Homo sapiens: one gene and its partners. The protein of the gene in region 1 purifies or fractionates together with the protein of each later gene. This does not show direct contact. Each region holds a gene or a part of one and is shown in the gene's direction. Other genes may lie near its edges.

Evidence for each region.
Region 2: the proteins of CCP110 (region 1) and NEDD1 purify together in Homo sapiens (affinity purification with mass spectrometry; 2 studies listed by BioGRID and IntAct, with this or other methods). This does not show direct contact.
Region 3: the proteins of CCP110 (region 1) and MIB1 purify together in Homo sapiens (affinity purification with western blotting; 2 studies listed by BioGRID and IntAct, with this or other methods). This does not show direct contact.

The regions. Positions count from the first base shown.
Region 1 is NC_000016.10:19,526,386-19,534,139, forward strand, and holds part of CCP110 (centriolar coiled-coil protein of 110 kDa), read left to right. Parts: intron 1-1,481; 5' UTR 1,482-1,496; coding exon 1,497-1,637; intron 1,638-6,030; coding exon 6,031-6,159; intron 6,160-7,754.
Region 2 is NC_000012.12:96,910,257-96,918,010, forward strand, and holds part of NEDD1 (protein NEDD1), read left to right. Parts: intron 1-2,466; coding exon 2,467-2,561; intron 2,562-7,364; coding exon 7,365-7,481; intron 7,482-7,754. UniProt on the Homo sapiens protein: Required for mitosis progression. Promotes the nucleation of microtubules from the spindle.
Region 3 is NC_000018.10:21,862,570-21,870,323, forward strand, and holds part of MIB1 (E3 ubiquitin-protein ligase MIB1), read left to right. Parts: intron 1-1,956; coding exon 1,957-2,097; 3' UTR 2,098-7,754. UniProt on the Homo sapiens protein: E3 ubiquitin-protein ligase that mediates ubiquitination of Delta receptors, which act as ligands of Notch proteins.

The DNA.
Region 1 (7,754 bases):
GAAATGGGGTTAAGAAATAATGTGAGTTGAAACCTAGACCTAAAAAAAGGCTATGCCTTAAGGTGTTTTATTGTTTTTACTTTTGCTTTTTTAAAATAAATAAAAGCTTGTAAAATAGTCTCACTCACACTGTAGAGAACCATTTGTTTGTCATTAGATTCCTACTTTGCATAGATTGAACACAAATAATTACAATTGATTGAATAGTAGGAAGAAGTTTTGTTATTGATTAAACTATTTAGAAAAAATAGCATTATATCTTATTTTTTTATAACCTGATTATAATTTTGACTATTTTTTTTTTCCCATTTCTCATTGCACTATAATTTGTCCCTGATACTTTGGTGTACTGAATTTTTAAGTACTTTGAGGCCTACCGAGGACATATCCTATTTCATCTTTGCATATCCCACATCATGAATTGAATTTCCCTGCCCTCTCTTTTTTTGTTAAGAAGCTAATTATTTTAAAATGAAGACATAAAGGAACATGATTGTATTCTATTTTCTGTTTCCATAGTTCATACCCTTGCTGGTTATGATTCTGATAATGTCTTTTTATTTTCCCTTGCTTATTTAAAGGAAACAGTGCCACACATAATGCTGTGCAAATAAGCAATCAACATTTACTGTTTGCTAAATGAATGAATATGATGCCTAATCCCTCCTGGTTACCTTGTATTTTCATAATCACAATTTCCCAGAAACTGTGAAATTACTGGGATTGTTTTAAGTAGTTTGGTGATGGTTCCAATTTTCAACAATAAAATATAATTAATATCAGAGCCAATCGATTTGCTCTTTTTTACCTCTGACTGAGTTGGCTGGTGCTCATGCAGTCCAAGTATAGTGTTAAGATAGGCAAATTGAGGCAGGAGGATTGCTTGAGTCTCAGAGTTTGAGACTATAGTGCACTGTGACTGAACCTGTGAATAGTCACTGGAATCCAGTTTGGGCAACATAGTGAGACCTTGTCTCTTTAAAAAAAAAAAAAAAGATATGAGAGTAACCTCTGAACTTCAAAATAGAAAATTTTTAAAAGTAAATATTCTTTGATTTAAGTAGGCTTTTTTACTACAGTGTTTGTACCTTTGTATGATATAGTTTTTCTTGTGTAGATAAGTCCTGTTAAAGAAAATATAATATCCTGTTTTACAATGTGAAGTTAGTAAAGATTTACAGAACTTTGTTTCCTTTAAGAAGGTTTTACTGAATTCTTAGCTAAATTAATCCCATTTAAAGATTGATTTACATGCAATAATATTCAGAAATATTTAATATATAAAGTAAATCTTAATTGGACAGGTTCTTGAGGTGAATTACCATACCCAAGAATTAGCTCCTGATCAGTAAGACAATTCTGGGAGGACCAGTTATAGGAATTGTGAATTATAGGGACTCTCTCATGCTCTACAAAATCTGCCAAATAATTAAGATCTGTTTTTCCCAGTACATTAAAAATAACATTTTTCTCTCTTGTAGTGTGACTGTGGGAAGATGGAGGAGTATGAGAAGTTCTGTGAAAAAAGTCTTGCCAGAATACAAGAAGCATCACTATCCACAGAGAGCTTTCTCCCTGCTCAGTCTGAAAGTATCTCACTTATTCGCTTTCATGGAGTGGCTATCCTTTCTCCACTGGTAAACTTGCTTTGTTTTTAAATAGTTTTTTTCTGTAGTGAACAACTAAAACAGTTCGTGGAAAAACAAAAGAAAGGCTTATAAACATTTGAAGAGATGCCCTCATTCAGAATTAGAGAAATACAAATGAATTAGCATTTTTTACTTACTATTATAGATTGGCCAAGACCTAATAGAACTTTGTGTTCCTTAGATTGTGGAGAAAATGCACTTTTAATGCACTTTTGCTAAGAGAATCAGTTTATTTTATTTCTAGATGAGCAGTTTGGTAGAATTTAAAAGCATACATAGCCTTTGGGTCAGCAGTTCCATTTTTGGGTATATCCTACAATTATATGTGAGCCCAAAGAAATAAGTACAAAGTTACATTAGCATTGTTTAAAATAGCAAAGGTTGACGAACCACCTAAATGTCCATCAGTAGTGGAGTAGTTTAACTATGGTCTATTTTATAAACTCTCATACATACCATTACAGTAAGGCAGATGTAAATGTTGAGGCATGGAAGGATCTCAATGATCTAGTGTAAAACACCGTGTGCAGCATGCTGTCAGGGGCAGTATAGAGTCATGATTAGAGGTCCAGACTCTGGGCCAGGCACAGTGGCTCACACCTATAGTCCCAATGCTTTGAGAGACCGGAAGGAAGAGGATTGCTTGAGACCAGGAATTCAAGACTAGCCTGGTCAACATAGTGAGACCTCATCTCTATAAAAACATGTTAAAAAATTAGCCTGGCGCAGTGACATGTGCCTGTAGTCCCAGCTCTTCAAAGGCTAAGGCGGAAGGATCGCTTGAACCTAGGAGTTGCAGGCTGCAGTGAGTCAGGATTGCATCATTGCCTGGACTACAGAGAAAGACCCTATCCCAAAAGAAGGAAAAAAACTCCAGCCTGGGCTAACAGAGCAAGACCCTATCCCAAAAGAAGGAAAAAAAAAGTCTAGGCTGTGGAGCCTTCTGGCCTGGGTCCAAATCATTGCTTTGCTACTTACTTGCTGTGTAAACTTGTGGTCCATTTTCTTATTTGTTAAATGGGGATAAAATAGTGCCTACCTCATAAGGCTATTTTGAAGATTAAATGAATTCGTAGATATAAAATGGTTAGAATACCACCTGGATCATAAGAGGTACCCAATATAAGTTAACCATTTGGGTTTTTCAAAGGATGGCTATTCCTTTTCTGGGGAGTGGTGAGAGAATATAGGATAATAGGGAAGACACTTCATCATACACCCTTTGATACTAATTGGATATTTTAAAAATGCATATGACTTTATTTTAAATCACAAACTAATATTAGAAAAAAGTGAGCTTTAAATTTATTTTTTGGTATAACAGGAGTTAAGAGATTAATTTTAATTAATTGAATTGAATTTTTAAAGACACCAGAGCTAACTGCCAACTTTTTGTAATGAAACTTTCAAACATACAGCAAAGTTGAAAGGATAGTGCAGTGACCACCCATAGATTTACCATTAGATTAAATAATTTTTAACATTGTTGTCATCTTTGCTTTATTGTGTTTGTGATTTTTATATACATCTATGTGTGTGTGTACATATGACATTTTTAAAAATTGCCTAGCTATTTGAAAACCACGGAGACCTGACACTGCTCCCCTAAATATTTTGGTGTACATCTCTTAAAAATAAGGACATTCTCCTATGTAAAGCCCCAATACCATTATCACATCTTAAGAAAACTAATAATTTTTAATAATATCTAATAATTCTGTTCATATTTAAATTTTTCCATTTGTGCTCAAAATGCCTTTTATAACTTTATTCCCCCAATCTGGATCCAAAGTTCACAATTAGTATTTGCTTGTTATGTTTCTTTATTTTAATCTAAAATAGCTACTGTACGTCTTAAAAACAGTTTTTTTTATTGGTTGAGCATGGTGCCTCACGCCTATAATCCCAGCACTTTGGGAGGCTGAGGTGGGTGGATTGCATTGCTTGATCCCCAGAGTTTGAGACCAGTCAGGGCAACGTGGTGAAATCTCATCCCTACAAAAAATACAAAAAAGAGCTGGGTGTGGTGGCGCGCACCAGGAGTCTCAGCTGCTCTAGAGGCTGAGGTGGGAGGATCACCTGAGCCCGGGAGGCTGAGGCTGCGGTGAACCCTGATCATGCCACTGCACTCCAACCTGGGTGACAGAGTGAGATACTGTCTTTAAAAAAATAACAAAACTATGATACTGAATTTTTAAAGAGACCAGAGCTATTGTCTTGTAGAATTCCTTAGATCTTGGATTTGTCCCATTGTTTCCTAATAGTGTTATTTAACTTGTTTCTCTAGTCCCTGTAGTTCCTATGAACTGGAAGTGAAGTTTGATAAACAGGTTAAAGATTTTTGGAATTCTTTGAAGATAGGGCTGGGCGGGGTGGCTCATGCCTGTAATCCCAGCACTTTGGGAGGCTGAGACCAGCCTGGCCAACATGACGAAACCCCGTCTCTACTAAAAATACAAAAATTAGCTGGGCGTGGTGGTGGATGCCTGTAATCCCAGCTATGTGGGAGGCTGAGGCAGGAGGATCCCTTGAACCCAGGAGGCGAAGGTTGCAGTGAGCCAAGATCCACTGAACCCAGTAGGCAAAGGTAGTGAGCCGAGATCGAGCCACTGCACAACAGCCTGGGCAACAGAGTGAGACCCTCTCTCAAAAAAAAAAAATGTAATCCCAGCACTTTGGGAGCCCGAGATGGGTGTATCACTTGAGGTCAGGAGTTCGAGACCAGCCTGGCCAACATGGCGAAACCCCTTGTCTACTAAAAATATAAAAATTAGCTAGGCATGATGGTGGGTGCCTGTAATCCCAGCTGTGCGTTAGGCCGAGGCAGGAGAATCGCTTGAACCCAGGAGGGATCGGGATCGCACCACTGTACTCCAACCTGAGACTCCATCTCAAAAAAAAAAGGAATTCTTTGGAGATGATGCCCTGCACTTCATACTAAATTAAATCAGAAGTTACATAATGTTTAGTTGCCCTCTATTAGTGATGTTTAGTTTGAACACTTGCTTACAGTAGTGACTGCCAGATGGCTCTTTAAAGTACACATTTTCTCCTTTTGATTAGCAAGTAAATTGTATAATCATTCTTTGGTACCATGCAATTAGGAAAAAGTTTTAAAACAACATATTTATCAGCTATTTGATAACACATTGCTTGATTTAATGTGGACCAAAATGTCTGAGGCTTGTTGTGTAGGGTCTATGACTCCGTCTGTTATTTATTTATAAGCAAAATGTGATGTTTATGGACCTAATCCACACTTTTATGTTGTATTTGATAGGTGAATATTGCAACTTTTGAAATAATTTTTTAATGATATATTTTCTATTTGTGTAAGTCTACGATAAGTCTTGACTGTTAACAGTGATTTAATTTCCCAGGACTTAATAATTAAGATTGAAATCCATTATAAAGAGATACAATGCTTAGAAGCCTTCCATTTTTTAGGTACATTATATTTTTATCAGAAGGTAGAGTGAGGTGAAAGAAAAGATGTATTCTGCTTTTGTAGGCAAATAATATATTATCTGTTTATTTTATCATTAAACCTTTGGACATTTTTTGAGGCAGCAAAGAGTTAAATTGTGCACTGGTTAGAAAATTAAAAGTTGTAGAATCCAGTTGATCCAGTGAAATAAGATACTGAAGATGGGCCAGGCGCGGTGGCTCGCGCCTGTAATCCCAGCACTTTGGGAGGCCGAGGTGGGCAGATCACAAAGTCAGGAGTTCGAGACCAGCCTGACCAACATGGTGAAACCCCATCTCTACTAAAAATACAAAAATTAGCTGGGCGTGGTGGCACGCGCCTGTAAGCCCATCTACTCCGGAGGCTGAGGCAGGAGAATCGCTTGAACCCAGGAGGCGGAGGTTGCAGTGAGCCGAGATCGCACCACTGCACTCCAGCCTAGGTGACAGAGCAAGACTCCATCTCAAAAAAAAAAAAAAAAGGATACTGAATGTGAAGTAATATTCAAGTCAATATTCAAGTGAAGTAATAAAAAACTCAGCAGTGGCCAAAAGGGCCTTAATTTTATTTCTGTCATTTTAGAACATTTGATTAGTGAACAAACTTTTTTCTTTTTAACCTTTTAACTGAAAATAATTTACACATAGCAAAATGCACAAATCTTAAGTGTTAAAGTTCCATGAGTTTTGATATATGGCATACACATGTATAACTCACACCCACACAGGATTTTCTTCACCATGGAAAGATCTCTAATGCCCCATCCCACTCAGTACCCAGACCATTGTTCTGATTTCTTTCACTATACATTAGTTTTGCCTGTTGCACATGTTTTTAATCTTTCTGATTCACAACTTCCCGATTTTATGATATTTTTATCGTGGGAAATAATTACATTTTTATGATGTTTTGCAGCTTAACATTGAGAAAAGAAAGGAAATGCAACAAGAAAAGCAGAAAGCACTTGATGTAGAAGCAAGAAAGCAGGTTAACAGGAAGAAAGCTTTACTGACTCGTGTCCAGGAGATTCTTGACAATGTTCAGGTGTGTGATTTTAGCTGTTTCAGTTATAATAAAGAAATCATAAGATAAGCGTTGATGATAATTTTTCTGAAATATATTTGCACTTAACTAATTACTAATGTACTTTACTGTTACGTTTGAGAAGCTTCATAATTTGTGATTTTCCATTTCAGTTACTCCAAAGAGAATGTACTTGCTTGTTAGTAATGCCCAGTACTTGAATCAGAGGATATTTACACAATAGAACCATACACTGAATATAATTGCTTATTGTTTGCATCTTATGACTCTAAAAACATTGAATTCTCAGTGACAAAATGACAGAATTGGGTATTATTGTTTACCCCAAACTAATTAGACTATTGACTAAATGACCTTATTCTCATTCTTTGCTTAAGTAAATAACTGCCTCCAATTTTTTTTTGGTGAAAACTCTTAGATACACAAAATGCAGTTTAGATAACATTGAATTGTTTAGATGCATCCTATGTCTAAAAACTATTTAAACAACACATCTACACCTTGTGCAGTTATTTTTAGATTTGTATAAACAATTTGTTCTGACATGTGGATCATTTTGTACTAAAAAGAAAAACAAATGAATTAGATTGAACGAATAATTTCTACAACATATAGCAGTGTTCTGCTGGTAACATCTTTTTGTTTTTTCATAATCTTAGGAGTTTGTGGTTTGTCTGTTTAATTCGTATCGATGACACGTGTATAATGAACCTTAAGGGTTCATTTCTCTGTTGGTAGTGTAAACTGAAGAAAATGACTGAGGCAAGTCTCAATCGATTTAGAGGTTTGTTTTGCCAAGGTTGAGGATGTGCCAAGGAAAAAGAGACAAAAGTTACAGTAGAATCTGTGGCTTATGCTTTTCCAGAAGAGGTTTTGAGGACTTCAGTGTATAAAGGGGAGAGAACAGCAGGAGGGGAAAGAGGAAAGAAAAAAAAAGGAGGGTAGGTAATGAGATAAGCGATCACATTTTTGTGAGGCTTTGATTAGCACTCACTGAATCCACAAGTCGCATGAGAAAGGTGGGGGTAGAGGAACAGTCAGTTATGCATTCATCTCAAGCTCAATAAATCTGCATTTTACATAGGATAAAGTAAGCAGAGTAGAGGAAGAAGTCAAATATACATTTGTCTCCAAAGGGATGATTTCTAGTCATCTTTGGTCTTTGTCCGTATCTTGTCAGAGTGAAATTCAGCAGAACTCTGGGTTGGTGTAAAGATTTTGGGGCCTACGAGGAATTTCCTTGTGAGCAATTTGCAAGAGAGTCTACCTGGGTAGATAGGTGGCCTTCTATTTTGCAGCTATCTGTTTAGGAATAAAAGGAAGGCAGTTTTTGTGTGACTCAGTTCCTAAGCTTTACTTTTTCCTTTGACATGTGATTTTCCATTTCAGTTACTCGAAATCCCTATGTAATGAGTCTTCAGAATCTGATGAAAAAGTCAAAGGAATATATAGAAAGAGAACAATCTAGACGCAGGCTGAGAGGTAGTATTAAGAGAATTGTTAATGAGAGTCATAGTGACTCTCATGTGACATAGTTGAGTTTGGGGTCCTGAGATATTATTTCCCTTTCACAGTAGTATATAGTGTGTGGGTAG
Region 2 (7,754 bases), on another chromosome or scaffold:
GTTTTTGCATCTACATTTGGGTATTTGTGGATCTGAACTGAAAATTAAAGACAGAACTTGAAGGCAGAAGCAAGTTGGGGAGGAGATAAAAAATTGCCCAATATCTCCATCTTACTAATGTACTCTCCATATCTTCCTTCCTCTCTGTGTGTGTGATGAAAATTACATTTCCTAAACAGACATAGTAAAGTTACCTAGATTGAACTTTTCTAAGCTTTTTATGTTTCTGATTGACACCTTCCCTGTCTTGGTGAGCTCCTCAATGTGGATAAAATAAAATGAGGGAGTGAAGACTGTAAACTAGGGTTTCTGAACCCTGTGCTATTGACTTTTTGGGGCAGAAAATTTGTTGTGGACCTTTCCTGTATGTTGTACCACGTGGAGGTTTATTGGTCTTCACCCGTTAGGTACCAATAGCCTCTAGTTGTGACAACCCAAAACGTTTCCAGAATTGCCTGAATCACTCCCAGTAGAGAACCACTGCTGTGACCACAGTGCTCCTATCACCTTTTATGTGAAAATGTTTTATGTAATTGGTATGTTAGAAATTTTCTTTTGTGAAACTCATACGCTATTTCTTAACAAATTAAGATTTAACATTTATCTGATTTTTATCAACACCAAAGTATTCTACTTTCTGATAAAAAAATCAAAGCTTTAAAATGTGACTGGTTCAGGAACAAAAATATTAAAAGTTTTATATGACTTACTATTCTTGCATGTATATAACAAGAAGGACAAATTTTCTTACTGAATTAAATTTACCTCCTTATCATTCCTTGATTTTGCAGTAAAACAAATTACTTTGGTACTCTGTTAATCAAACTCATGGTGAAGTGACTACATTTTTGAAGGACTTTCCAGATGTGTAATAGGGAAAATATTTTAAAGAGAGCGACAAGTATATGAAGTTGCTGTTCTCTATTTTTAGATTTTCATTATGTTTAGAGCTTAATTTTCCCTCTTACTATATAAGAGAAAGGTAGCAATTTGTAGTAAGATTATTTTTTGGTTGACTTTTGTTTTAAGTTTTACTAGGAGTTGGCATTTACTGATGTGCTACTTAATAGTCTAACAACAAAACTGATGTAGCTATGAGATAGTGTTGTATGACTTTTGGAAATTGGTCTTACAGTTTTCTTGCATGAGCAGATGTGCACTGAAAGCCTTCATACAGTCTTATTCTTAATAAGGCTTTGATCACTTCCATGGAGGTTAATTACTGAAGAACAAGGAGTTCCCAGCCTTAGCAACTTGGGGTCCACATAGTATAGATTCCAAGAATGGGGTTAATGTGAGACACCAGAGAGATTAGTTTTTTGTTTCTTGTCCTTTAACTTACGTTCCTCACTTTCTCATGATTTCTAAAACTACAAGAGAAATAAAAAAGAACTAGATTACCCACCCACATTATGTTTCAGTCCTTTTTTTTCTATATTCTAAGGAGAAAAGTAGTGGTAAACAGGAAGAAGTCAAGGAAAGGGAAATGGTTTTTCTCGCTATGGTAATATCTAGGTAGGAATGATTTGATTTGCATCATGTATCATAATAAAATTACAGTCTATGCTCTGTTTACAAAATACCTGAAAGTTATACAGAACATTCAAAAGTTAATGCAGTTAGGGATTCTGAGTGTCTAATTAACCTTTCTCCATTGCTTTTACTCACAGATTTTAATTGCTAAAAAGCACAGATTTAAACTTCTGATATTTTAATTTGTTATGGCTCTCAAAATCAGACTCTTATTCTTAGTTATATTATTGTATTTAATCATTTTAGTTTTAAAATAGTTACTGTTTTGTGTTTACTGATTGTTCCATTTACAATTCGTGTAAAAGAAGGTAAATAAAATTACATTTTATTTAAAAATTAAAACTCATAACACAATTCCTATTTAACCATACATATTTATAAAATATTTGCAAGTTACTGTAATAGTCATTCTTAATTTAAGATTGAAACATTCTATCACAAAAATTCATGTTCTGGGAAAATATCAGGCCTTTTTTTTTTTTAAATAGAAAAATAGGAGACTAGTGTGGATGTTTGCTTCCTAGTTTAGATTGTTACCAAGCACTAGGTTAATAAATATCTTGAACAGTTTCTGTAGATGAAAAGGTTGATTGATATTTGCTGATGCTGCTTTTATCATGCTCTCATTCTTGAAGGATAAAATTAGCCCTTCTGGCCTACTCTTTGAAAACAGAGTAGTATTTCACGTGGGTTAAATAGCTTTTGAGTGATAGCAGAGCCAGAAAGAAGGCTAGTTCTTCCCTGCAGTAGTAGCAAAGAGAATTAGTCTTAGTAATTATTAATAGTAATGTGAGCCATTTTTGAAAGCTACTCTGTAAGCTATACTCATTGCTTGTCTTCTTAGTGTGTTAGCTTTTATAATCGCAATTCTTATAATAGTCTAGTGCTATAGATGTTCATGGATTGTTTGATGCTCCATAACTCCTCATTTAGATAACTTTTTAGTAACAGCATCTTCCAGTGGCGACAAAATAGTTGTCTCAAGTTGCAAATGTAAACCTGTTCCACTTTTAGAGCTTGCTGAAGGGGTAAGTGATTTTTTTTTTTTTTAAACTTTTAAAAATCTTAGTTTTGCTTGACTGGCAATTGCTTATTGTGGTGCTTGCGACTAAATATAAAGGTTTTTAAAAGCATTATTTTTAACTTAAGCTCAAAATAATATAGTAACACTTAAAAATGAGATATGTGTACTTACTAAAGTATTTTTAGGTAAAATAGTTTTGAATATAGGGGAACAATTGAAGACTTGAATTTTGTTGACTAGGCACTTCATTTCTCCATTTTCCCTCAGTGGGAGAGGATCTCTGTTGCTGCTATTTTAGGACGATATCCCACATAGGTTACTAGGTTGACCTGAGCATATAAACTCTAATGACACAGCACTGCTTTACTGATCTTGGGCTCAGGACCATCAGGAACAGACTCACAGCTGATGGTAGCTCTCTGCTTCAGATTCTGTCCACCTGTACTGAGGGGCCTGTCTGAGCCTCCCCCATACTCTCCTTAAACAGGTTGGCTTTGTCAAAATGAGCTTAGGTCCCAGGGCGTTTAAATGAAGCTCTCACTACGTACTGTTGCCTTATCCTTTTTTTTTTTTCTTTTGAGATGGAGTCTCGCTCTGTTGCCCAGGCTGGAGTGCAATGGTGCAATCTTAGCTCACTGCAACCTCCGCCTCCCCAGTTCAAGCGATTCTCCTGCCTCAGCCTCTCAAGTGGCAGGGATTACAGGTGCCCACCACCACGCCTGGCTAATTTTTGTATTTTTAGTAGAGACGGGGTTTCACCATGTTGGCCAGGCTGGTCTTGAACTCCTGACCTCATGATCCGCCCGCCTCAGCCTCCCAAAGTGCTGGGATTACAGGCATGAGCCACCACACCCAGCCTATCCTTTTGTTTTATAAGTTAATCCCTCTGATTAAGGATAATACTGGCTTCTTCATTTCTAGTCACACACTCTTTGAAAGCTATTTCTTTTTTAAATAAGATAAGATTTAAATAAAAAGATATGGTAGTTGATAGCTTTTTTTTTTAATTTCAAAGTTTTTCTAGCAGATCTTAAATTATTATGAATTGTCATAATTTTACACACTGGGATAGGTAAAGTAGCCCAATTAGAAAGAAAACAGCAGGACAACTGAATAAAAGCTCAACTAATTTAAAGAGGACTCATGATTTTTATCAATCCTCTCCTAAAGGTATCCAGTGGGATTGACCTGAACTTCAGTTCTAACCCACAGATGTTGGAGACTGGGACAGAGGGAACATGTGCTAACAGTAGAAATGGAGTTTGAGGCACTCTGTTTAACCTGACTTAAGCAGAATCAAGGCATAGAATGTCTCTGGTCGATAAAGGCAGACTGAAGTCTTCAAGAGCAGGCAAAACATCTTAACCATCTTTGGATCTTTGTATCCTAAGATGTTCAAAAAACTTGTTAATGTCAACATCAAAACAATTTCAACTTCTACTCTACCACTATATATATGTACTACTGTTATGCATTATGCCTTAGGATCAGTGAATCAGTATTTGGGAGCTTTTTTTTTAAAGTATAAAAATAACAGATGGTATTTACAAGTGTGACATAATTCTAAGAGTTTTGTGAATATTCCAAATTAGTTGCTATGATTCTTAGCCCTCTTTCCCATAGTTAACAAATTGTATCATAATGCTGTTGGATAAAAGTAAGATTAGTTGAGTTCAAATTTTCAATCTATTTTAATTTAGTTATGAAAATATTTGGAAACATTGGTTTTTTAGCTTTTACTAGTAATGTTTACAGAAACATATTAATGTGCTAATAACCTTTTTGTAACTTCCAAGTCCTCTTACTCGTGTATTATTTGAGGCATTAGACCTTTTCTACTTGAGAAAATAAATTATGATCTTACTGATTTTAAAATTTTAGAGTAGAACTTTAAGTTCATATTTATTTTCTTTGATTTTGTATTTCACCTCTTTAAAGTAGAATGTACCTTTGCCTTGCACCTTGAGCAGTTCAGGATTCCTGTAATAACCACACAATTTCCATTAATTATTTAAGTTCATTAGTTGCATTAATAATACATTATCATAAAAAAGACCTATCAACAGGGTTAGCCAGCTCTAAATATAATTTTTATTTTGAGCCCTTAAGAGTAATTGTAGTTGTTGTGATGATTGGAGTCCCAATATATTGATCTTCAATGGACACCATCTTTTTCTATTTTATTTAAAGGCTGTTTTGATAGTTCTTAGCAAACTGTCCTGATTTGCAGTGACAACCAGATTCTAAAGCTTCTTAGTCTCCCTCAACTAAAGTCAATTCCTAGAATGGTATCTGCAGGAGAATTACAGCAACTATACTGAAACATTGATGTTGTGTGCATCTTGCTATTTTTATATGTTAGTTGATACTCTTGGTCAAAATTTTAGAGCTAGAAGGAACCCTGGGGTCCACAGAAGTGAACACAAATCTATTTGATTTCCTTGAAGCATTTTTGACCCCCTTAAAAGCCGTTGGATCCATGTGGAAGAAAGACAGTAAGAGAGTGGCTCTTTAGTACAAGATTAGCATGTTTATAGTATTTGAACGTGCAATGGGGGAAGGGCTAGAGGAAGGGGATCATATGCACCCTTTAAAGAATCTCTTTTGAGCAGAGGATATTTCTGAGAAGCATGGATTCTCAAAGTAAGAACAGTAGATCTAGTCTTCACCTTTCGTTTCTCAAATGCAGAAGCATAGGCTCAGAAAGGTGAGATGATTTGCCTAAACCTACATAGCTTGCCTTTTAACTTTTCTTGAAGTCATGAAATGTCTCCTTTGAATTTGAAGAATCCAAGGATGCACTGTGGAAGTTCCAACTAATGTGACTTCGTAGTGCATCTAAAGGTTACTTAGGAAAAAAATGCAACACTGTTCTGTATAGCATAGTTACTGATGGCACCACCAAATTGGTGACACTCAAAGATACTCACTGAGAAGAACTTGACAACATCTGTATTTTAGCCATTCTATAAAGATGGAGCATGGATATGGGCCTTGTGCTAGTGAAACTGACATTCTGGCGGGGGACAGGCAGTAAACTAGTAAACAAAAAATACCCAGATATTGGTAAGTTATCATGCAGATAACTAAAATAAGATATTGTGATAGCAAGTTACATTAGGTAGCCAATGGAGGTCCCTTGAAGTGTGGTGGCACTTAAGTTGATATCTGTTGACCAGAAAGTCTTCCAAACAGGGTTCAGTGAATTTAGCTTTCTAGGCAAGGAGAATAGCTGTGTAGAAGCCTTGAGGCAAATATAGGGTTGTATATTTAAGGAATGGAAGGTCAGTATGGCTGGAGAATTAGTGGATGAGGAAGAAAATGGTAACAGATGAGGTAGGGCCCAAATAATAGGACTTTGAAAGCCAGGTAAATGTTTGGAGTTTATTCTTGGTGTGATTGGAAGCCGTTGAAGATTTATTATTATTATTATTATTATTATTATTATTTTTAAATTATACTTTAAGTTTTAGGGTACATGTGCACATTGTGCAGGTTAGTTACATACGTATACATGTGCCATGCTGGTGCGCTGCACCCACTAACTCGTCATCTAGCATTAGGTATATCTCCCAATGCTATCCCTCCCCCCTCCCCCCTCCCCACCACAGTCCCCAGAGTGTGATATTCCCCTTCCTGTGTCCATGTGATCTCATTGTTCAATTCCCACCTATGAGTGAGAATATGCGGTGTTTGGTTTTTTGTTCTTGCGATAGTTTACTGAGAATGATGGTTTCCAATTTCATCCATGTCCCTACAAAGGACATGAACTCATCATTTTTTATGGCTGCATAGTATTCCATGGTGTATATGTGCCACATTTTCTTAATCCAGTCTATCATTGTTGGACATTTGGGTTGGTTCCAAGTCTTTGCTATTGTGAGTAATGCCGCAATAAACATACGTGTGCATGTGTCTTTATAGCAGCATGATTTATAGTCATTTGGGTATGGAAGGAGACATGATCTGATTTACATTTTTAAAGTCCACCCTACTTATGAAGGATGGAATATAGGAGAGCAGGAGTGGAAACAGGGAAACCAGTTAGGAAGCTGCTGTCGTAGTTTGGTAAGGTTTGGGTTAGTGTTAGTAGTAGCTATAGATAAAGGGGAGCCCATGTGGGATTCATTCTTGGGTTGGAGTTTAGAGAGCTTACTGATAGATTGGAGGGGAGGGAGAACAAGAAATCAAGGGTTATTCTGGGTTTTTATCTTGAGAAACTGGATGGTGTCTTTACAGAGATGGGGAACAGTTGAAGTCAGGCTTTGATGACCTGATGTCTGAGACTTGGTCTCCTTAACGGAGATTTGCTGGAAGACTTAGGGCAAGTATCTTGACTTCTTTAAAAAAAAACTTATCCCATCGGTAAAATGAGGGCTGTACACTGGAAATTCTTTTAAAGTCTCTTCTATTTTTAGCATTTTTGAGCTGGGGATTGATTTTAATGTAGGATATTCTGTGGAAATACAAGAGCAGGCTTTATCAAGAGGAGATAGGATGGGCAAACAAGCCCTGATGGGAGACCAGGACTGCCAGTGTTTTCTAAGCTTCCTGTGTCGTCACCGGTCCACAGAAGTGAATGCAAATCTATTTGATTTCCTTGAAGCATTTTTGACCCCCTTAAAAGCTGTTGGATCCATGTGGAAGAAAGACGATGAGAGAGTGGCTCTTTAGTACAAGATTAGCATGTTTATAGTATTTAATTTAACCAATATTTATCATATGCTTACTAAGTGTTGGATGAGACCTGAAAGTCAGCTCTGGGCTCTGTTAAATTAAGGTAACTTTTTTTTTTTTTTTTAAATAGCAAAAGCAGACATGTGTCAATTTAAATTCTACATCTATGTATTTGGTAAGCGGAGGCCTAAATAACACTGTTAATATTTGGGATTTAAAATCAAAAAGAGTTCATCGATCTCTTAAGGTAAGCAATTTAAAAAAAATCTTCATGAAAAAATGGATATCTTAATGCATTTAGAGTACTTACCAAGCTTTTATTTTTGAGCTTTTATGATAAAAATAAGAGGCTTCAGAATTGAACTAAGATTTGTTAGGGAAAATAAAGGTGCTATTTAGCCAAAAACTTATTTTTATGTCTTTTTTCTTACATGTGTAGCATTAATGCATATGATCAACATTTACAACTTTTTTCTTGTTTTTTATTTAGTTCTACTCTTATTTGAATGAACCACTTCAC
Region 3 (7,754 bases), on another chromosome or scaffold:
TTTACATTTATTAATATGTAACTAAGGCTAATTTGTTTTAATTCAGGGGAATCTACATTGATAGTAATACAGTGCAGCACAGTGTCTAAGAGCAAGAACTTTGGGGCCCTGAGTTGGTTCACTCTAGGGCTTGCTTTGAGGAAGGTTTTCAATCCCGCTGAGCCTCGTTTTCCTCATTTTCCAAGTGGGAATGATACCAGGACTGAGATTGTATCCTATCTAAGCATAGTGCCTGACAAGTGTTCTCAGCTACTTCTCAGCACTGCTCCCCACCCTGCACCATGTATTGCATGATACATTGCCTTCTTTTTATGCAAGAGCAGCTGAGTACCTAGATTCAGGGAATTTCAGTTAGACTGAATGGAGCTATTTTCATCCATTTCCTATTACGTTTTGGTTTATATAGGTTTTTTTGTTTGTTTGTTTTGAGACAGAGTCCTTGCTCTGTCGCCCAGGCTGGAGAGCAGTTGATGCAGGATTTTTCTCAACCCCTTTGTCATACTTGCGACAGAGGTGCGCTGCTTACTTGGCCACTGTGCTCAACTGTTTGCGGGAGGGAGCACATGAACGAGCAATTGCAGGATCCATGCAGCGGCACCCAGGTGGGGGTGCCTGCGACTCCAAAGCCCCTGAGGGCATGTTAGAGTGCTCTCTTAGTTCTGCCGTCCACGGACAGCGGTGTGTTATCAGCTCAGTTGGCCCCTTGCCTCATAGTGTGGGGTAGCTGCCCTCCGCCAGTGAGGGCAAAGGGCCAGTGTAACAGCCTTATTTTGGGTACCCACACTCGGTGTGTCCCGAGCTCTTGTCCAGTGTTCAAGAAGAATGAGGTCACCTGGACACTTGAAGGATGGTGAAGGCAGAGAGTTTTATTAAGTGATGGAAATGGCTCTCAGCAGAGAGGGGAACTGGAGTGGGGGTGGGACGGGTAGGTAATCTTCCCCTGAAGTCCGGCCATCTCTTCCCTGAAGTTAAGCCATCTCTCCTCCGAAGTCCAGTCATCCCTTTGAAGTCAAGTTGCCTCTCTCCCCTCTACTACCTGGGTCTGGAGTCTTTAAAGGCACAACATGGGAGGAGTGGGCAGGGTGGGCTGTGGGTAGTTTTGGAAAAGGCAACAATCGATTGGTAAAAAGACATTATTTAGAAAGAACCAGTTGGGCTGGGCGTGGTGGCTCATGCCTGTAATCCCAGCACTTTGGGAGGCTGAGGTGGGCAGATCACGAGGTCAGAAGATCAAGACCATCCTGACCAACATGGTGAAACCCCATCTCTACTAAAAATACAAAAAAATTAGCTGGGTGTGGTGGTGCGCACCTGTAGTCCCAGCTACTCAGGAGGCTGAGGCAGTAGAATCACTTGAATCCAGGAGGCGGAGGTTGCAGTGAGCCGAGATTGCGCCACTGCACTCCAGCCTGGCGACAGAGTGAGACTCCATCTCAAAAAAAAAGAAAGAAAGAACCAATTGGGAGAGAGTGGGCAAGCAGGAATAGAAGTTCTCACTTTGGCCTGTGGGTTTCAGGCTTTTCAGCTCAAAGGTTGGGTTTCACTGGGGACCCACCCTTGTCTGCCTAGAATTTCTCTGCCTCCTGCCTCTATCACAGCGGCGCGATCTTGGCTTACTGCAATCTCTGCTGCCCGCGTTCAAGTGATTCTCGCGCCTCAGCCTCTTGAGTAGCTGGGATTACAGGTGTGAGCCAGGGTGTCTGGCTGTGTTTTATATATTAATAGTTTTTAATCTTATGTAGTACCTTTCATACTATCCTGATAGTACAACCAGTGTTTCTATTTTATTTTATAGGGATGACATTTTAACTATTTAAAAATGTTAAAAAATTGTTTTTAAAAACCACCAAAATATTATTTGACTAAAACAACTAAAGAAAATTAATGATATATAACAGTCTGTCACTTTCCAAATATAAAGTGTCTAATTTATTACTTTGTTATCTCACATTACAGACAATGTGCCCTGTGTGTCTAGATCGTCTGAAGAATATGATTTTCCTTTGTGGTCACGGAACCTGTCAACTCTGTGGAGACCGCATGAGTGAATGTCCTATCTGTCGCAAGGCTATTGAACGAAGGATTCTTTTGTATTAACTAAGACACATGGTGTATTTTGTTAGCTAATGTATCTAGTCATGAGATCTTAATAGGCTTTTGATCTAGTTGGAAGTTCTGATGAGTTAATTTCTAATATCATAGTTTCTTTACTAGAGTATAATTGGGCTGTAAATGTACCAGAACAAAAAACCCTACAAAATGGTGTTGGAAATTGTGTTTTTTGTTTTTGTTTTAAATTTGAAACATCAAATTCATGTAACTCATAGGATAATTTACCTTTGGCTTCTAAGAGGAAAGTCCTTTAAGGATATCCTTTTTTAAAAAATTGCATTTTTCTCTTATAATTTGTAAATTTGTTGGATCTCAAAAGACATAATTCTTTGTGATCAGTTATCCTTCATTTCATCGTGGTTTTACACAGTGAGTTGATAACAGGTTCTCTGAGAAGTCATGCATCAAATAAAAGAGGCAGGTCAAACAATTATGTCACATGGTAAATTATAAAATGACAGTACAAGTTCCAGATAGTTAAGGGAATACCGAAGGGATGATTCTTTTTTTAAGATAACAGGAAGTTACCCACATGTTTGTTTCTGAATTCTTAGAGTAAATGGAAGCATAGAATGAGGGAATAATGACTTTGCATTTCTCTTGTTTTCTAGATTCAAAAGGAACATTGTTTAACTTGAATCAGATTACCAGTTTCAAGGTGACTGATAGACAAGAAAAGGAAAAATAAGCAATAATAGTGGGCAACTGAAGAGAAAAAAAAAACGAGTATCTATTAACTGGCCACTAACAGTTGCCTTTCTTACATTAATTTATACACTATTTTGTTCAGCCAGTGTTTTTAAAAAAAATCTATGAAAAGTGTACTTCCGGTTTTCTGTGATTACTTATCTGGGCTTGATCTGACCAGTGAAATGACATTGCCCTATTTGGACCTCTGAGGTTCTATTTAGCTTTGCAGATGTACATAGTATCCCAGTGATCTGCAAAATTAATGCCTTTTCCAAGAAAAAATCTTTTCTTCTCTGTATCAGTTAATTCTGACAGTGTTAGTGATTCTGTCTTCATTATAGGCCTTATTTCCATTATCTCTTTCTTTATAGTATTTTTTGTTATAAAGAAAACAGTCTTTCTGTGTATACCTACGGATGAGGGTATTATTTAAACTGCCAACAATATCCAAGACATGGTCAATAACCTAATTATAAATACTTTAGAAAGAGTGACCAGGACATGTATAGAAATGTCTGCTTACCTGTAGACTTTAAAAACAAACAAAATTTTTGGAGCATTTAATCATTTTTTTTCTCCTTTTATCTCCTTTGTAATCTTATTGTCTCCTGAGTAAATATACACATAAATGTTTGGGGATTCATTGCTGCTAGATTATATCAGGTGTTTACATAGTGTCTACTATATGCTGTTGATAAGCTTTTTCCTAAAAATAGTTATCCTCTTTTGTAGTTTTTTTCCCTCCTTTAAATCTGGCTAGCTTTTCTTACTTCAGTTTTTATAGAACACCAACTAAATTTGAAAGTATGAAGTCTCTAGCCCTCTTACACTGTTTCTGGCTGTTTAATCCTTGCTGCCTTTGCAAGTCCTGGTGAAAGCAATGGGGAGCTTTGCTGGCTGGTTTTGTAGTCTCAACAATTCCATGTCTGTGTTTAGCTGAGTAACTGCTATCATTTAGAACAGTAAAATTTTTATAGATTTCAAATTTGAAAATTCATGTACACTCAGTTATCTAATAAGGGGCCACCGACGCTGTTTTTAAAACTATTTTGAAGTTATAAAAAGGTAGAACATCTGACTGATGATGTTCACATAAAGAGACAGACAGACTATCATGTTGCAGACATGAAAACAGCATGTCAGGTTTTTCCTTTCCTTCCATGCCATGGGCTACCCATCTCTTCCCACTAGATCACCTGGTGAGGAGGGAGCACCTGGCTGACTCATGCAGAGTTTGGCCAATCAGAGAATTGTGTGGTCTCCAGCTCTACTTTCCTTAAACAAATCCTTTCTGTTTTCTGAGCTGCAGTGCTAAAACAGATCCCTAAAAGGTAATAGCATCTTCCAGACTAGTTTAATTATTTCCTTTATAAGAATATGACATAAATTTTTATTATAGAAATAATGTCATTATAATTTTAGTGCTAGTACTTGTGGGTTTTCTGTATTTGTATCACCTTGAAATTTGTTCCATGAATAGAAAATACTTCTTTATTCATGTTTTCAATCACTTAGAATTATTTTAAATTTATTTTGGGTTTGTGAGAGATAATAAGATTAAGAACTTCATCATTTCAGTGACTTTCCTCCAACTCTCTGAATCTGCTACCTCTTATTATATGTCCCTTAGCAGTACTTTTCCAGTTAGGTTCGTTACCCTGCTCATTAGCTAAACCTCTTTATCTTGTGCCTCAAAAGAGCTTTTACTTTTCTTAGAAACATTTATAAAAAAGAAAAAAACTGACACGCATTCATTCAAAAAAGTATTTATTGGGCTTTAGGGATTAGATACACAACAGTGGAAAAATGGCATCTTAGCACACTCAGAATTTATTGTGCAGCAGTTGTGTATTTTAAGGAATCTGTAGTTAAAAGGAAGAGATCCAAAGGTCCTGATAACATTTCCTAACGTTTCAGAAGAGTTGTCATTGAGTAGTGTTTGGATTTCCTCTCTGTATCCCTCACCCTACCATTTTCTCCTTTATTCTTCTAAGATTGTTAGCGTTGTTACTCAAAACATACACATACAACATACCAGATGGTGCTGTTCTAATGGTATTTGTTCACGTAATTTAACGTTCTTACTGCTTATACTATATACATATTTAATTTTGTTGGGAGCAAGAAGGTTTTCAAGAAAAGATAATTTTGTATTAGTGTAGGAATATATTAGACAAATGTTTAGTTGGTCAAATTATGCATAAGATATTTGTAACTTTAAACATTGCAAATTGACCAGCTAGCTATGGAAGCATAAAATTAATTGATAATTAATGTTGGAAATACATTTCTAAAATTTATATTTTTATGGTGTTAGCCTGTAAGAGCATTTTAGCATATTGAAATGCATGCTGCTTAAGATGTGTCTGGTTCAAATATCAAAACTTGCTGGGTCATTTTTACATAGTAGAAACATACTGTCTATGTGTTGCCCAATTGCTGTTTGTCCACTCTGAATTCTGGACCCTTTTTGGACTAAGAATTAGTTAAATTCATGAACTAAGAGAATTAGAGATGGGGTAGAGTAGGATCAGGACAGTGGGGTTACAACAGATAGGAAAGGAAAGTCAGCATTTGAGTGTAGAGAAAAAAAGAGGATCATACAGATGTCATCAAATTATAGGCTTTAATACAGGTTGCTTTTTTTAATCCAAAAGGAAAAGCACTTATCCTATCAGAATGTCTACCATGTTTTATAGTAATAATTTGTGTAAAAAATTGAATTTTTGAATAGTTTTTTGTATTTTTTGTGATGAAAAACTCATAACATAAAATTTACCATATTAACTGTTTCTAAAGAATACAGTTCAGCCATGTGAAGTACATTTACACTGTTGTGAAGCAGATCTCCAGAACTTTTTCATCTTGCAAAACTGAAACTCCATACCCATTAAACAACTCCCCTTTTTGTTTTCTCCTCAGTGGAATAGAATTTTGACTCCATATAAATCAAGAAACACCTAAATTCTTTAGTTGTTTGTGTTTGCAAGATCTAAGGTCATGGTAAACATTAAGTTCTTAAAATTTTTGGGAGGGACAGTGCACCTCTCCTCTGAATTGTTAGCAATTAAATTGAGTAGGTTTTAAATGTCTATTCATTGGAAGGGTTTGTTATTTCATTTTGAGCCAGAGGGGAGAGGCACATTTTAAATATCAGAATTAGATTAGCTTTGAGTTTGTACAATTGGGAACATAATAGATTTTCATAAATTATGTGTGCCTTGTTGGAAGTGTCAACTGTCTTTATGTCTGCTTGTAAAAGTTTCAAAATATGTTTTCCCTCAAAAAGGCAACGTTACTTCATTTGCTTGAATATTATGATAGGAATGCTTACTGATATTACTTGATAGTCATATATAGCCTAGGAAATTTAACATATATATAACTATAGCAGTATTAATAATGATAGTTGTACTTCTTTAAAACATTAAATTTGAGGAAACTTTAATGCTGTCTCGTGTACATTGCTTTACTACAGTGAGGGGGAATATCCTTTAGATTGAGCCTCAATTTACTGGTTAGTAGTATGTGAAACTCTGGTATAAAAACGTAAACTAGACAGTAGAGCCGATGAATTAAAATTGTAAATTGCTACATTGGCATTTTCTACCTCCTTTTCTGTCAGAGTATTACTTTTTCCAGCATTTATTCTTATTTGTGAGTAAAGAGGAAATGGGAACCTGAGGTTAAAATTGACATTTTTGTTTCATTGAGAATTTAAGCAGTAGGTACAGGAGAAGTGACTTGTCACATTAATTTGGTGCCTAAATCTGTAACTACAAGTTGTGATCGACATGTACAAAATGTCTAAGAAAGGTCATATGCTGAATATTTTACTTTTCCTGTATAGTCTGCATGATTTGTTTCATAAACCCAGCTTATTTCCTCCAAAAAGCAAAATGGTCCTGTAATTTTTAAAGTAAAATAAACGTGCCATTTTGTCTGCAATCTATAATTTCAGGAAGTTATTGAAAGTTCTGACTCAGGGCTTTTTAACAGTTCAAGCAATTGTCAGTTATATTTTGGAAACTCCATCTGTGTAATTCTCCAGTGCCTTGAAAGAATTATTAACTTGGCAACACTATTAAAACTTTATAAAAGATGGTCTTTAGTGCACGTGTATCATTATATACACGTTTTAAAGTCATATTGCTTAGCTTGTTAATAATGATTCTGCATGTGTGCTGGGTTTGGGTAATTCTTTAAAGGAAGTTTTCTAGATTTGCACTTGATGTTTGTTTTTTAAAAACTGATTATTTATGGCCGTGACACTGTTACCAGAAAAGTAATTCTAATTAAGTTATTATGCAAAGTCATCTATAAGTAGCATCTGGGAAGAGGAGATCGAGGCCACAGTTTGCTATTTTAGTATGAAAGGAGGATCTGTTTGGGAAACATAGATTGTCTTCCCCTCAAATGAGGGGAAAAAAAAAAGACCCTTTGTTCAAATGGATTCTGTTGTAAAAAATTATTTTTAAAGGAAATCACAAATTGTATGTCATTCTTAATGCTAGTCTTATAGAATAAATCCATAAAATTGTTTTTATGTTCAGTATGTTTATGTCATTCTAAATGCAGCAAATTCAATGATAGCAGTTCAATTGACTCATAGCAGTGTTTTGTATTTTTTCTAATTCTTTAGCTTTCAATATTGGATTAAAGTCTTGTTTGTGAATATAGTTTCCGTATGGCAAATGATTTCTTGCTTATTAGCTTTTGTTAAAGAATGCTTAGTAAGAGCTAAGCTTTTAAAAGTAATGCAAACATTTATCGTTAATAAAACCTATGGTGTAATATCATATAATGCTTTTCTTTGATCTTTGGAGAATTATTCTTTTATAGTAGTATACATGAATTTTGATTTTTAAAGCATTTAAAAACAAATCTCAATACATTAAAAAACCTGTTATTGTTAAAAAGGAAATTACCATGCCTTTAAGAAACAAGGATGT